Regions from separate parts of the Homo sapiens genome. Here region 1 is linked to region 2. Evidence: fine-mapped expression QTL. Tissue or cell type: whole blood. Region 2 holds a variant in brackets; the other region holds the start of a gene. All regions are shown on one strand. Distances are between the middles of the regions.

Region 1 (7,663 bases), 49 kb before region 2:
TTGTTGTTGTTATTGTTGGAGTCTCGCTCTACCGCCCAGGCTGGAGAGCAGTAGTGGCGCGATCTCGGCTCACTGCAACCTCCGCTTCCCGGGTTCAAGCGATTGTCCTGCCCCAGCCTCTCGAGTAGCTGGGACTATAAGCGCGCACCACCACGCCCTGCTAATTTTTTTGTATTTTTAGTAGAGATGGGGTTTCACCATGTTGGCCAGGATGGTCTCGATCTCCTGACCTCGTGATCCGCCCGCCTCGGCCTCCCAAAGTGCTGGGATTACAGGCGCGAGCCACCGCGCCCGGCCAGGATTTTAAAAAAAATACTGTATTAGGATTTTTATAAGGCTGTAGTAAATGCTATTGAAAAATGCTTACCTCTTATTTCAGCCTTCTCCTCTGTCTGTTCCTCAAACTGGCTTTTGGTTTGAGAGAAGGGGAGGAGCGACCCTGGGGTTGGAAAAGCCCAGGAGACAAGATGGAGATCCAGTCTGTTCATCTGTACATCCCTGGACCTGGGGCGGTCCTGGGGACAGTCCTTTTCTCAAGCCAGTCAGTGGACATTTGGGGGAGAGTCTAGGCACGGATATAGAGGACCCAATATTCCTTTTTTTTTGAGACAGAGTCTCGCTCTGTTGCCCAGGCTGGAGTGCAGTGGCGCGATCTCGGCTCACTGCAAGCTCCGCCTCCAGGGTTCACGCCATTCTCCTGCCTCAGCCTCCCGAGTAGCTGGGACTACAGGCGCCCGCCACCACACCCGGCTAATTTTTGTATTTTTAGTAGAGACGGGGTTTCACTGTGTTAGCCAGGAGGTCTCGATGTCCTGACCTTGTGATCCACCCGCCTCGGCCTCCCAAAGTGCTGGGATTACAGGCGTGAGCCACCGCTCTCGGCCCAAGATTCCTTAATCTAGTTGGTTTTCCGAAAGCGTGGCTATGAAGGAAGAACTCAGGAGTTCTAGCCATTCCCATTGTATTTTGTGTTTTTTTCAGTAGGTATCCCGACGCAACCCTCAGATTAAAACTTTAAGGGAAAATGAAGACCACACCCCTATTCCATAGAAATTAACTCTAATGACAACGTAGTGGCGTGGCGGGGGTATAGCTCAGTGGTAGAGCATTTGACTGCAGATCAAGAGGTCCCCGGTTCAAATCCGGGTGCCCCCTCTGTGCTCCGGAGTTACCTCGTTTTGTTGGTCTCCGGAGGTCCTCTAAAGAGTTCCCGCACAGATGGAATGGGAGGGAGTCTCGAGCCCTGCCACCCTTTTTGCTTTCGCAGGCGAGTGAGGATGGAGTCCTGGCCCCTGCCAGTGGCTCAGCCTGTGTGTGTACCCAGGGTAGAATGCAATGCGAGTGAGGGCGAGGAGCTCCGGGCTGACCCTTGGAACACGGTACGGGTGGCTCAACCTCGCAATGGCAGGGCGGAGGCGAGCGCACCCCCAGGTCAGCCTGGCTCTTTCTTGGCGGGAAGGAGGCTGAGTTTCTAAGGGCTGGGCTGGGGAAGACAGGTCGGGAGAAGCCGCGTGAGCATGTGGGAGGGAGAAAGAAGCTCCGAGACGTGGCAAGGGGTCTTCTGCAGGGCAGGAGAGTGGGACGCCCCCGAAGTGAAATATTTCGAGAGACTTCTCCTTCCACACCCCAGGAATATATTTTCTTATACTGCCAGTGGGGATCTTCAGCTCAGAGCTTCAGGGAACAACCCCTGCTTCCAAGTGAGTAATTCTTCTGGGAGTTGTATTTTTTCCATCTCTTGTAAACGTCTTACCCCACTTCCACTTCCCTTCGGGAACGCCACACAGCGCCTGCGCAGCAATACCACTAAACGACTACGTGCGGTCGGTTTGCCGGCAGAGGGGGTATAGCTCAGTGGTAGAGCATTTGACTGCAGATCAAGAGGTCCCCGGTTCAAATCCGGGTGCCCCCTCTTTGGCCTTTTCGAGATACTGTTTTTGTCCTGGGTGTCGATTTTTCCTAAGCTGTTTGCTTTTACTCCTACTGGCAGACGAGGAGCAGTGAGGGACTGAAAGGAACTGGGGATTCAACAGCAGTGGCTCTCAAAATGTGGTCCTGGGACCAGCAGCATTACCTGGGTACGCTCGGGCCTCATCCCAGACCTAATGAATTAGAAACTTGAGGGTGGAGTCCAGAAATCTGTGTTTTCATATACGCTCCCCATCGCTTGAGTCCAGGAGTTGGAAGCTGCAGTGAGCTATGATCGCAGCACTGCACTCCAGCCTAGGCAACGTGCGAGAACCTGTCTCAAAAAACAAACAAAATACACACACACACACACACACACACACACACACACACACACACACACCCTGCAGGTGATTACGATCTCAAGTTCTAGAGGCTTACGTTAAAATTTACACATTTGCTTCTACTATTTACAAGTTTATGTTTCAGCCTGAGCTCTTCTTGTAAGACAGACCACGAGGTACCCCAGATGGAGGAATGTGCAAAGACGCCGGGGCTGGAGCTGGAATCCGTCCCGAGACTTCTCACCTTGACCTCGAGGAAGGCAGGAGGTCGGAGACAGGGGGTGGGCAGGCTGGGGAAAGAGGAAACCCGCAGGACAAGAGGGTTGTGGCTCGTCACGTGGCCACTTGAGGGCAGCAAGTAGCTGCAGCTGGAGGTAGCTGCCTATCTGATTCTGTTTGAGAGTCCGCCAAGTTGGGATTTAAATTAGACATCAAGAAGAATTTACAGACCGGCCTTGCCTTGTTCCACGGTAAGGGGACATTGGGTTTAGGGCTGGAGGAGGTAGTCTCTGGGACTCTGGGCCCGGCGGAAGGAGGAACCGGCGTTCTAAGAGATTAGAGAGCCTTTAGTTGTTTCCTTTCTTAGGTGTTTTTTTTTCTTTTCTTTTCTTTTTTTTTTTTTTAACCTCAGTGCCACGGAATCCGTCTCTTCCAGCCCACAGTGTACCTTCTCCTGTCCCCGCCCATATCCCTCCTCCTGGAAAATTTCTCCAATGGCGCTCAGCGTTCGCACCCTTCCTCTCCGCGGTTTTCTAGTCCCTAGGCCCCAGCCCACTAGAAGCCAGGATGCCCCCTCACCCCGTCTCCCACTCTCCAGCGCCCCAGCTCCTTGCCGTCACAAGAACGAAGTAGGTCAGGGGAGGGAAGAGGCATCTTCGTGTCCTGACCTGATTCCTTGCCGTCTATTAAATATCCTACATTGCGGGTATTTTTATTCTGTCCTGGAAGAAAAAATAAAAAGATTATCTATCCCCAGAGCCTGTCAGAAGGTGGTGACAGGTGGGGTGAGCCATTTCCTCGTCTGGGGCTGGCTCTGAAGATTGATTGGGTCTGGCCCTGAGTAGGCCTGGAGGCCCCAGAGAGGCAGGAGGCCTGGGTTACCTACTCGTGGGGAGGGGTCCAGACTGTTGCAGAGTAAGGGGTAGCCAGGCCCCCTCCACCCTCACGTCTGCTAGGCTTGGGGGGCAAATCGGTGCTGGAAATGGGGGGTGGAGGGATAAGGTGGAGTCATGGAAGGGGGGTGGGATTCAGGCCCCTCTTGGGGAGAAAAGCTGGGGGTCTTTGCTGCAGGGGGAGATTTCTGGGGGTGGGGGCTGGAGGACAAAGCATCAGAGACGCACAGAATTCCGAAGAACAGCTCAGGAAGTCGCAGAGCTTGGAGGAGCTGGGGGCGGGGAACAGTCAGGGGCCCGTGACCCAGGGATGGGGCGCCTGTCCCTTCCAGGGGTCCAGTCCTCGGGCCTTCTCTCTGCAGCTTTCCCGGCGGAACGGAGGAGGGAAAGGGAGCCAGGAGCTCAGTGAGGAGCGCGGGGCGGCTGATGCTTCTAGGGGTTCTCTCAGCCCGAGGGGCTCCCGCCCTGTCCCCTACTCTGCACCCCTTGCCTTGGGAGCGGCTGCAGAGCTCTAGGGGAGCGCTCCGTTAGGGCTGAGGGCAGGCGCCGGGAGAGCCCCCAACGACGCCGCGCCCCCCGCCCCGCCCCCTGCCCCAGCTCCCCCCCACCCCCACCGACCCAGCGGCCCCCCCAGCTCCCCGCCTGCTCCCGGAGGCCGCAGCCTCCAGCTCCGCTCGCGCTCTCGCCGCTCCTGCCGGCTCGCCCGGCCCCGCGCTCCGCCGTCTCCTCGCCGCCCGCCCCTCCGCCAGCCCCGGGGACCGCGCGGCCGCAGCCTGAGCCAGGGCCCCCTCCCTCGTCAGGACCGGGGCAGCAAGCAGGCCGGGGGCAGGTCCGGGCACCCACCATGCGAGGCGAGCTCTGGCTCCTGGTGCTGGTGCTCAGGGAGGCTGCCCGGGCGCTGAGCCCCCAGCCCGGAGCAGGTAGGACTGGCGGGAGCCGGCCCGGGTGGGCCGGGGGCGGGGAGGGACGGGCAGTCAGGTGTGGGCATGGGCAGGTGTGGACGGCCTGGCGATGTCCGCGAGGGGGGCATTGTCCGCAGGAGGCCAGGAGAGCTGTGGGCTGTGGGCAGGTGGATAGGGACCCCACTTTCCCAAACACATAGGGTGTGTGAGTGACGGTGGAGACACCGATGCCCGGACCTCTCCTTCTCTCCTGGAAGGATACTGGAGGGACCTTAGGAGAGGGGGCTCTATGTGGCCATGGGCTCTGAAAGGGGACAGCGGGAGAGTCATCAGGACCCCTGATCACCCCAGGCAAGGCTGAATTCTGATGAGATGGGAGCCTGGGGAGGCCCCTGCCCCAGCCATGCCTTCTTTTCCTCTTCTCTGCCACACCCCCGACCCCAAAGCTGATCCAGGCTAGGGATAGGTGGGAGCAGCCAGGGGGATGGTGGGGACACAGCGTCTCTGCCTGGGAAGGCAGCAGCCATTCGGTCACCTTCCCTTGCCTATTTGGTGTCAGTAGAGAGGCAGTGGGCCCAGGAAGAAGCAACTTGCTGCTTCTGCACCCCCAGCCTCAAGAGTCCCCCTCCTCACACCTGCTCCCATTTGCCCTGGCAGCCTTTGGCTTTCAGCTACTCTGGCTCTAGATGGGGCACTGGGGTAGGGGGTGGAGGGAGGCGTCCCATTCTGCACACTCCTCTTCCCCCCTACCAGTTCTCCAAACTCATCTCTCCCACCTGGAAGTCCTTTCTGAGATCTACCTGGAATCCCTCATGGTATAATTTTCATAGTCTCTGTTCTCCCCTAAGCACCTAGACTTTCTCTGGGGTTGGGGAGATGGGTAATTTGCAGCCTGGCCCCTCAGCAGAGATGATTAAGAAGATAGATACCTGTGCATCATTGGCATGGGTGCCCCTCAGGTGGGGTGAGGGAGGCGCTGTTGAGGTGAGTGCTGTGGTTGACCTGCTGTGTCTCAGGAGTGTGCTGGCACCAGGCACAGTGTCAGTGGCAATGTTCTTGACTTTAATGGTCCCAGCATGTAGCTGAGACAGACCTGGGTCCCTATTGAGAAGAAGAGTATGTTGGGGGTGGGAGGGGAAGGAGGCTGACAGTGGGAAGTATGGGCAGAGGGCAGTGGAGCTGACGAACCGAGAAGCTGCTGGTGAGAACCACCAATTTTCAGGGAGACCACACAGAGGGTGGCCAGAGACGTGGCTTCTAGTCCCGCCATCTCACTTGCTGTGTGACTTTAGACAAGTTACTTTCTCTCTCTGGACCTATTTTTGCATTTATAAAGTGAGGCTGTTGGCAAAATCTTTGACTCTTGTGCGTGGAATAATGAAGGATCTTTTATAATTGCCTTTCCTTTTCATATTTGTTAGGGTCTTTATGGGTAACTGATACTTTAAAAAAATCAAGGTAAACAGGAGAGAGTTGGATATGTTATGAATAATTTCTGGGCTCCTTTGAATCCTCAACCTGGTGTGATCTTCTGAACTCTGGGTGTAACAGAGTTTATGAGGGGAGGATCTGAACCTTTGGCTGGATTGTGTGAACCACGGAGAGGGCTGGGGAAGGGGGAATTGGGAGGTAACAAGGATGGGCTGGGAGATAGTGGCCAGACCCGGGCCTGGCTGAGGGCGGCCCCTTCAGAGTAGGGTTGGGGTAGTAGACGGTTGAGGAGACCAGGAAGAGTGGGGCAGGCAGAGACTTGAATCACTTCTCTAAGTAGAGGCTATCCTGTCTTCTTGGCTTTGACAGAGATTGAGCCAGGAGAAATGCACTTTTTCTGCAGCAGGAGGGATAGAGGTTAGACTTAAGGAATCTGTAAGAAGCCAGAGGCGGCAGCTGTTGACTCCCAGTCCGGTGCCCTTTTCACAGGCCAGGTGGGATTTCACAGGCAGGAGGACCTATGAGGAGGAAGCGGGTGTCTGGGGAGGCCAGATGTAGGAGAAGGACGTTCTGGGGGAGAGTTGCTAAGGAGGGGCAGCCTGACCTGATTGATGGCGGAGTTGTTGTGACCAGTGGAAGGGCAGCTGGGAGCAGGACCTGAAGAGATGCTAGCATCCTTCCCCAAGGCTCTGGGTTTGTGGGGCTGGTGGGGGGCCTTGGGAAGTAGCTGAGATCTCCCCTCGCTCCTGATGGACAGGCTTGTTTGGTAGAGCCTTGAAACCTCATCTATCATTAGAACAGCAGCAGCAGAGAGATGAGTGGCCCAAAGACAGAGTCAGACAGCAGGGGAGACCAGGATGACAGACAGGAAAATGGCCTTGGGGTGCAGAGCAGGGGCCCAGGGAACTGACAGTCTGGTCAGATGGAACCAGAGGTGCATATGACAGATAAAGAAGAGGCAGCGAGAGTTGGCATCCTGGCCTGGGAGTCCTGCAGGAGGCCAGGCTCAATACCAACTACTGGTGACCCTGACAGCTTCCTCCTTTCTCTGAGGAAGGTTTCCCCGTCTATAAAATGGGGGCTTGCACCAGTCACGGTGGCTCATGCTTGTGATCCTAACACTTTGGGAGGCTGAGGTGGGAGGATAGCTTTAGACCAGGAGTTTGAGACCAGCCTGGGCAAAATAGTGAGACCCCATGTCTATAAATGATTTAGGCCAGGCAGGGTGGCTCATGCCTGTAATCCCAGCACTCTGGGAGGCCGAGGCCGGCGGATCACCTGAGGTCAGGAGTTTGAGACCAGCCTGGCTAACATGGTGAAACCCCGTCTCTACTAAATATACAAAAATTAGTATATTTAGTATTGTTATTAATATTATTAATATTAGTATATTAGTAAAAATTAGCCAGGCGTGGTGGTGCATGCCTGTAATCTCAGTTACTCAGGAAGCTGAGGCAGGAGAATAGCTTGAACCCGAGAGGCAGAGGTTATAGTGAGCTGAGATCGCACCACTGCACTCCAGCCTGGGCAACAGAGTAAGACTCTGTCAAAAAAAAAAATTAAAATTAAAATAAAAAATTAGCTGGGCATGGCGGTGTGCGCCTGTAGTCCCAGGTACTCGGAAGGCTGAGGCAGGAGGATCGTTTGAGCCCAGGAACTGGAGGCTGCAGTGAGCTATGATCATGCCACATAGTGAGGGCAGCATAACGAGGTCCCATCTTTTTTTAAAAAAAGGAGGGAAGGAGGTTGGACCAGATTGTCTCTAGGGCTCCAACAACCTGAGACTAAAATGCGAACTTATGGAGGTCAGGCAGCCCCTCCCTCATCCCACCATCTTCTCTAGCTCTCCCCAGATTCACCCCTTAACCCACTCCAGCTGCCGTCCCCTCCGATCGACAGATAACTAACTGGCTTCTTCTCATTCAGGTCTTAATCAGCTCAAGGGGACCCTCCTCAGAGAGCCCCA
Region 2 (8,334 bases):
TGAGCTGAGATCGTGCCACTGCACTCCAGCCTGGGCAACAGAGTGAGAATCTGTCTCAAAAAAAAAAAAAAAGAAAGAAAAAGAAAAAAGAAAAAAGAAGGCAGCATGATGAGCCAGGGTGGTGGCTCATAACCCCAGCGCTTTGGGAGACTGAGGCGGGAAGATTGCTTTAACCCAGAAGTTCAAGACCAGTCTGGAGAACATAGTGAGACACACACCTCTATTAAAAAAAAAATAGAAGAAGGCAGCATGGTTGGAAGGGAGAGAGTGAGGGGCAGGACAGGGCAAGGGAACCACAGATTTGCCCTTGAGAAAAGTCACTCTGGCTTCAGAGTGGAGAACAGGTTGTTGGGGGCTTAGAGGGAATACTGGGAAGTAATTTAGGAGAAGGGTGACAGCAGCTTAGAGTAGGATGAGGGGAAATGGAAAACAGACAGATTTGAGAGCCACTTAGCAGGTTAAGCAACAGAATTCGGAGATGCATTAGATGGGGAAGGGAAGAAATGAAAGAAAGGGAAGGGAAAAGGGTATGTCCCGGGTTTCCGGCCTGCATGGAGTGCCATTCACCGAGACAGAGGAAAGAAGAAAATGTGCTTGGAGGTGGTGTGGAGAGGACTTGGAATTTGGGTGGGGTCCCACTGGGCTTCCAATGTCTTGGAGTCCTCCAGGAGGTGGTGCCATCCAGAAAGATGGGTCTGGAGCTCACAGGGGAGGGCTGGGTGGGCCCCAGAGCGTTTGGGAGGTGGACGGAGTCTCTTCTCCCTGCCGCAGATCCCTATGTCTGTCCCGGAAATCAGCTCCTCCCAGCATCCTGTCAAAACCGGCCTATCGGATGCCTTCATGATTCTCAATCCATCCCCGGATGTGCCAGGTGAGTCTTCAGGGACCCCGCAGAGGCCTTGATGGGGGTAGGACTCCGCTCAGACTGAACCTGAGCTGCTGGGGGGATGGCAGTGGCAGGGAGTAGACAAGGGGCAGAGAGTTGAGAGGGAAACCAGGCAGGAAAGGATGCCCAGTGACTTCCAGCTTTTCTTTGTTATAGCAGAGGGACCATTTTCTCCAGCAAAATCTCCAATGGGAGGCACTGCTCTGGTTGTTAAGGTGAAAGGGAGCCACAGCCCTTCCACTCAGCCCCTGTTCTATGTAGAAAACCTCCAAAGATGCCCTAGTAAGGGGTTTGAGTCCTCCCAGAATACAACCATTGTGGCCTTCCCACTCCAGGTGATAAAGGGAGCATCATAGGATGCCAGGAGACAGGAATCCAGCCTCGGCCATGCTGTTACCTCCCTGTCCTTCAGCAAACCACATCATCTCTCTAGCCTCAGTTGCCTCATCTACAAAATGGGATAGTAGCTGAAGGAGTGCTTCTCCCTCCCAGGCCCTCCTCCAGTGCTGACATTTTAGGAGGTCATAGCTCTTTCTCCCCTGCTCCCGACCCCCATTGCGTGCTCACGAGGGTCTTGGATTTGTACTCCTGGGGAGCGCGGCAGGCATCCCATGCACTGCCGCTCCTTCTAGACCCTTGTCTCAGAGACTTTTTAACCTGACCTCTTCTGCTGAGCCGTATGCACAAGTTCTGCCATGTAGGACCCCGGGAGGTCTGGGGAGGAGCCTTTGTCTGCCCTTCCCACCCCACCTGGGCTTTGATGGGGCCTGGGGGCATTCTCAACTCCACTCTTGCCATGCCAGGCTGGACGGAAGGACACGCTTGGGAGCCCCCAAGTCACCTTCCTGTAGAAGGGCAAGGTACCGCCGTTCTGTGAAATCAGGGCTTCCCGGGGGAGGCATCATTGCCTATTTCTGTTCGGTTCCATCAGTACACGTGTTCTGAGTTCCTGCTTACACACTGGGCCACTATGTTCCAGGCACTGTTGAGATACAGTGAAGAGGAAGGGCATCTGCCCTTGAGGCATTCAGTATCTGAGCACAGCCTTTTTTTTTTTAAACAAAGTCTTGCTCTGTCATTCAGGATGAATGCAGTAGTGCAATTTCTACCCACTGCAGCCTCCACCTCCCAGGTTCAAGTGATCCTCCCACCTCAGCCTCCCGAGTAGCTGGGACCACAGGCACATGCCACCATGCCTGGCTAATTTTGTTATTTTTTGTAGAGACAGGGCCTTGCTATGTTTCCCAGGCTTGTCTCAAACTCCTGAACTCACACGATCCTCCCATCTTGGCATCCCAAAGTGCTGGGATTACAGACGTCAGCCCCCATGCCCCACCCCAAACCTCTGTCTTTAACAGAAATGTTAAGGGTTGGGGAACAATGGGGCCTTTAATCTATTTTTTTTTTAATCTGAAGGAAAGGACCAGGGCTTAGTTAAAAGGCCTTACCCAGTACCTTCTATATGCAAAGTTCAGTGGAGTGTTAGGGGCTCAGCTCTGGAACTGGAAGCCTGAGCTGGAGTCCACACTTTCCACAAGCATCTGACCTCTGGTGAGTCACTCAACCTCTCTGCGTTTATTTCTTTATCTGTAAAATAGGGATAAGAGTGATACTTTGCCCCTACAGCTGCTGCAAACACGCAGGCGATAGTGTATGTAAAGTGTTGGGCCTAATGTCTGGCACATCAGGTCTGTGAGTCCGGTATAAGAATATCTCACTACAGTAGACTTTAAAACTCAGCATTTTATAATCCAGCAGGACACCTTGTTCTGTAGCGAACAGTGCAGGACTAGGAACAAGCAGTGTCCTCATGCTGGTGTCGCAGGTCAGATGCCGCCACAGCACTTTCACACTTTCATGCAGCTTTTGTGACTAGGGACAAAAAGTCACATGCTATAGTGGCGCAGAGTTTCCCTACCTTTACTTGTTTGCACATCCCTCTTTGAGATTTTTGCCATTTCCATGAATTACTATTCTTTTTTTTTTTTTTTTTGAGACAGAGTCTCGCTCTGTTGCCCAGGCTGGAGTGCAGTGGCACGATCTTGGCTCACTGCAACCTTTGCCTCCCGGGTTCGAGTGATTCTCCTGCCTCAGCCTCCTGAGTAGCTGGGATTACAGGCGCCGGCCACCACGCCTGGCTGATTTTTGTATTTTTAGTAAAGACAGGGTTTCACCATGTTGTCCAGGCTGGTCTCAAACTCCTGACCTCAGGTGATCTGCCTGCCTCGGTCTCCCAAAGTGCTGGGATTACAGGAGTCAGCCACCGCGCCCAGCCATGAATTACTATTCATTATTATTATTATTATTAGAGACAGGGTCTCAGGCTGGAGCGCAGTGTCCCCATCATAGTTCATTGCGGCCTCAAACACTTGGGCTCAAGCCATCCTCCCACCTCAGCCTCCCAAGAAGCTGGGGCCACAGGCACATGCCACCATGCCCAACTAATTTTTAAATTTTTTTTTGGAGAGATGGACAGGGTTTTCCCATGTTGCCTGGGGTGGTCTCAAACTCCTGGGCTCAACTTAACCTCCCCTGCAAGCCTCCCAGTGCCCAATGTGCTGGGATTACTGGCCTGGGTCACTGAGCCCAGCTTATTTAGTAATGCATGTCTTTTTTTTTTTTTTGAGACGGAGTCTCGCTGTGTCGCCCAGGCTGGAGTGCAGTGATGAGATCTCAGCTCACTGCAAGCTCCACCTCCCGGGTTCACGCCATTCTCCTGCCTCAGCCTCCTGAGTAGCTGGGACTAGAGGCACCTGCCACCACGCCTGGCTAATTTTTGTATTTTTAGTAGAGATGGGGTTTCACCATGTTAGCCAGGATGGTCTCAATCTCCTGACCTTGTGATCCACCCTCCTTGGCCTCCCAAAGTACTAATGCATTTCTTTATCTTCATTTATAAAGTTATATTTTTTCATGAATAAGTGTATCTGGTCTAAAATGCAAAAGATATAAAAGGATGTACAGAGATTAGGTTTTTCACCTGCCCCTGAACCCTGTCTCTCAGTTCGCCATCTCTCAGCTCTCCTCCCTGGAGGCAAAGGGAGGGGAAACCAGTGTTCTGGGTTATCTCCAGAGCTGCAAGCCTTCAGGTGAGTGAGTGTGTGTGTGTGTGTGTGTGTGTGTGTGTGTGTGTATTTGATAGCATACGATGTCAGTGTTTCTGCACTTGAACAGAGTACATCCTGCCCACTGTTCTGTCTCAGCACACAGTGAGCTGCCTCATTCTTCTCTTTAATGGCTGCCTGATAGTCCATTCCATGGATGGACCTTAATTTAACCTGTCCCCTGGGGGTAGACTTTTCAGTTGTTTTAAATCTTGGGCTATAACAAATAATACAGTAGGTACTTTCATGCCCCCGTGTGAGTATTTCCGTACGCTATATTCTCAGTGGTCCAATCATTGGGTCAAAGGGCAGGGGCATTTACA[A/G]TTTTGATAGCTGTGGCCAAAGTGGGTTCCACGGAGACTCTGGCACTTTACCCTCCTCATAGGTGGGCATGCCTGTCACCTACTCTTTCGCTTGCCGTGTGTCCCAAGGCAAGGTCTGGGCTGTAGCTGTCACCATCTAATGAGTTGCCTCGAGCTACCTCAAGGGCTGTGGTGAGGATTAGCTGAGATATCCATGCACAGAGCACCAGGCACTGTGCCTGGCTTGGGCGGGGTGCCCAGTAAAGGCTGGTTAGCACCCACCAAGCATCTCGCCCCAGTCCACACCTTCATCTGGGCAGATCTGTGGGTGGGGTGGGTGGCACTCAAGGGTCAAGGGGCTGGTGAATGGGGCCTGGTTAATTCCCAACAGGCCAGGAGTTCTTTCCCCTCTTCAGAAATTCACCAGCTTCTTCTTCCTCCACCTTCCTACAACCTCCCTTTCTATTCTTTCTTCCCAATATCTGCCTGCCTGCAGCATTCCCAGCTGGTAAGCAGGCATAGACTTGCTCCCCGAAGCATACCACCTCTCGGTAGGGCCAGCCGCTAGACACCCTTCCCACGCAACACTGCATGATATCGAGGGAGATGGCAGAGGGCAGGGCATCGGAGTGGAGGGGCATCTGATTTGCATATGCTACTAGAAAGGAGTTTTGTGGTCAAGTTTTTGCTGCTTCTACTTGGGACTAATTCAGCTCTCAGCATAACTAGGGTGGTCCCGGCTTATGGTTCTGGGAGCAAATGGCTCTGGTGGCTTGAGGGCAAAGCGCCCACTGCTAAGCGGCAAATAAGGAATCCCTCCTCCCTGGTCAGCATTTGGGTGGGTTATAGTCTTGATCCATGGGCCCGTTGGCTGGTGGCTGTACCCCAGGCCTAGCCTGCCACAGAAGTGTGGGGCTCGCACCTCACCCTCCCTTCCCTTCTTCTCCGTCTCCCTTTTTAGGGCCCCGTGCCCTCTGTCTCCTTTCTTCCACAAAACTGTCCTGGATGCTGTGGCTCATTGCCACCCATACCACATGGCTCCTCATGAGGCCTTTGTGCCCCAGTGGCCTAGACTTGGATATAAAGCCGGGCAGGGTGTCTGTCAGACAGCAGGCACCTACTCGATACGTGATACGTGTGAATGTCCCTCCCTCCTTCCCTTTCTCAAACACGGCCTTGAACTCTTCTGCGCGTTTCTGATATTTCAGTGCCTCTGTTATGTTGCTGCTACACGAGGAACTGTTTTTAAGCTAGTAGAGCTGTTTTCCTGTCTTTGCCATATGTGTATGGAGCAGTCTTTGAAACTGCACACAAGCGGCGACAGCAGAAAACTCTTCCTTCAGCTCCAATGTGTGGCTTCCCTTGCTCCATGCCATGGGGCCCTGTGGATATCACCTTATCCTTTAAGGCCCATTTCCAACCCTAGATATTAGATCCTGGGCTGAGAGTCAGTGCACCCCACTACAGTTGTATCAGTTGTCAAAATATTGAAATACTTGCATTCTTGTTGGCAAATTGCTGCTGATTTGAGCCCCCTCGTACCTCCCACGACCCCTCCTGCCCTCCCCTTAGCCCCCTGCGCTCCCAGTCCTCTATCAAGTATTACAGCCTGGGCTCCAGGACCTGGCTCCATGGCTGCAGGCAGCATCTGCTCTGACTGGTTGGTAAACGCCTGTGTTGAGCCAGTTGTTAAATCATCTCCGTATCACCTGGTTGCATTAGTTAGCTACAGCTGTATAACAAATTGCTCCAGAATTTAGTGGCTTAAAACTGCAACATATTATCTCAGAGTTTTTATGGATCAGGAAGCAAAGCACAATTCAGCCAGGACCTCTCATTCAAGGTCTTTCACAGGCTGCGACTGAAGTGTTAGCCAGCGGCCAGGCACGGTGGCTCACGCCCATAATCTCAGTTCTTTGGGAGGCCAAGGCAGGGGATCTCCTGAGGTCAGGAGTTTGAGACCAGCCTGGCCAATATGTCGAAACCCCATCCTTACTAAAAATACAAAAGTTAGCTGGGTGTGGTGATGGGTACCTATAATCCCAGCTACTTGGGAGGCTGAGGCAGGAGAATCGCTTGAACCCGAGGGGCGGAGCTTGCAGTGAGCTGAGATCGCACCACCTCACTCCTCACACCACTCACTCACGATTTCACTGGGTGAAAGAGTGAAACTCTGTCTCAAAAAAAAGAAAAAAAGTGTTAGCCAGGGTCACAGTTACCCCCGTGATGGGGTGGCAGGTGGGGAGGGTTGGGACCGGCTTCAGAGCTTTCATGTGGTTTGGCAGGATTCAGGATTCAGAATTCAGGATTCAGTTCCCCAAGGAGGCCTTCTTTGGCTCCTTGCCTGGTAAACTTCCCCATGATATGGCAGCTGGCTTCCATCAGAGCAGGCAAGCGAGACAAAAGCAGAGGGCGAGGAAGACGCAAACCAGGGTCTTTTTATAGCTTAATTTTAGATGTAACATCCTATCTTTTTTGCCACATTCCGCTGGCTAGAACCAAGTCACAGATCCAGTCTACGCTCAGGGACTGGATTGCACCTGGGTGTGGATACCAGGCAGCCACCGTAGAGGCTCTCTGGGGGCCATGCTAGCGTCTGCCTACCACACTGATTATAATCCTCTTTCCCATGCACTAAGCTGGACAGTGTCTTGGATCTTCCCCAAACATTGTGAGTTTGTACATTTGTCCCTTTCTAAATGAGGACACAAATGTTCAGAGAGGTAGAGTGACTTATCCTTGGTCACACAGCTATGAAAGGAAGAATTCAAGTCCAGATCTTCTCCATTTAAATCCTGGAGTCCACCACTGAGCCTTTCTTAGACTGACCCACTCCCATTCCACCCAGGGGAATCTTTTCCTCCTCAGCTCCCCCAAACACCCACAGAGTGGGGTGTGCAAACTCCCCAGGCTGCTTCTTGGGACTGTTCTTGGTGTCTGTGCCTTATTTCCTTCCCTATCCTGCATCCCATGTACATTACTGAGCCCACTGTCGGGGCAGGGATGTGTCTGTTTCATCTGCACCTCCCTCAAGGGCTTCTTCCAGGCAGAGTCTCAGGAAACGTGTGCCTGATCAAGCTGTGGAATGAGGGTGAATTAGAGGGGGTCAGATCCCCGGTAGCATCTGCCTCTGAGGCTCCTCTGTGATTCTGGAATGAGAAGCCCCTTTAGAGCAAACCAGAGAGATGAGGGGTGAAGGGGGCGGGGAAGCACAACCCACCTGAAAGAGCAGGGAGGCTATGTCTGCTCTGCAGGATCAGGAGGAAATCTCGGTGGTGGGAGCGGTTGGAGTCTGACTCCAGGTGCTGTGTGCTGAGGTGTTGGGTCTACCTGCCAGGTGAAAGCCAGCACCTGACCCCCAGACACTGCCAGCAGCTCCCAGCCTCGTCCTCCTTCCCTCTGTCTCCTGTTCCTCCTTGTCACCATCAGATCCGATCACATCACTCTCTGACTCCTTGCTGCCCACAGGTCAGGTCAAAATCCTCAGTGTGGCATTCAAGGCCGGGCACAGCTGGGTGCAGTCAACCACGCAGGCGCATTTCCAAACCCTCCCTCCGCTCACCGCCCTCTGCCTGGGGAGCTCTGGTCTGTGTCCCCTGGGTTCCCTGAACATGCTAAGGGCTGTCCACATCGGTATGACACAGTCCCCTTGTATAAAACGCCTCTTACTCCAATCTTTTTTACTGCTTGGCACCATTCTCCCTCTCCAGCGGCCCAGGTCAGATGCTGTGCAAGTAACCACTCCGCCATGCAGTGGAATTCACGGCTTCCTCTTCTTCCCCCCGGCACTTCGCTGATACTTTTTTCTTCTTCTTCTTTTCTTTCTAGTGGTGGCGAGAACAAATGCTGATACTCTTAACATAGAACTTATTGTCCTCCCCAGCTAGGTGTGAATTCCTTGGGGGCTCTCTATGGCCCCCAGCAGTGAGCCCAGTGGGCAGGCACTAACATTTTTAGAAAATGAGTAACTACAAGAAAGTGGACCTAGTTGCTGGGGTTAGGGCACCGCTGAAGGGAATGGACATAGCATAGACCTTGTCCT

Evidence for each region. PIP is the estimated chance that this variant, and not a neighbour inherited with it, causes the effect.
Region 1: PLXDC1 starts here. The variant in region 2 is fine-mapped to the expression of PLXDC1 in whole blood (TOPMed, PIP above 0.99).

What each region holds. Positions count from the first base shown.
Region 1 is chr17:39,147,983-39,155,645 of GRCh38, reverse strand. PLXDC1 (plexin domain containing 1) reads left to right here and starts at 4,009. Exons shown (of 14, transcript NM_020405.5): 1 at 4,009-4,284. The coding sequence starts at 4,209. TRC-GCA2-3 (tRNA-Cys (anticodon GCA) 2-3) reads left to right here and starts at 1,841; the gene lies at 1,841-1,912. It overlaps TRC-GCA2-4 (tRNA-Cys (anticodon GCA) 2-4), which reads left to right and starts at 1,084; the gene lies at 1,084-1,155. RefSeq lists a silencer at 1,026-1,095 and enhancers at 972-1,476, 1,477-1,983, 2,356-2,505.
Region 2 is chr17:39,098,391-39,106,724 of GRCh38, reverse strand. PLXDC1 (plexin domain containing 1) reads left to right here. Exons shown (of 14, transcript NM_020405.5): 7 at 772-871. Among named protein-coding and RNA genes, the nearest start is that of PLXDC1, 49 kb to the left of the region's middle. RefSeq lists an enhancer at 7,177-7,778. The variant A/G (reference allele first, on the strand shown) is at 4,314.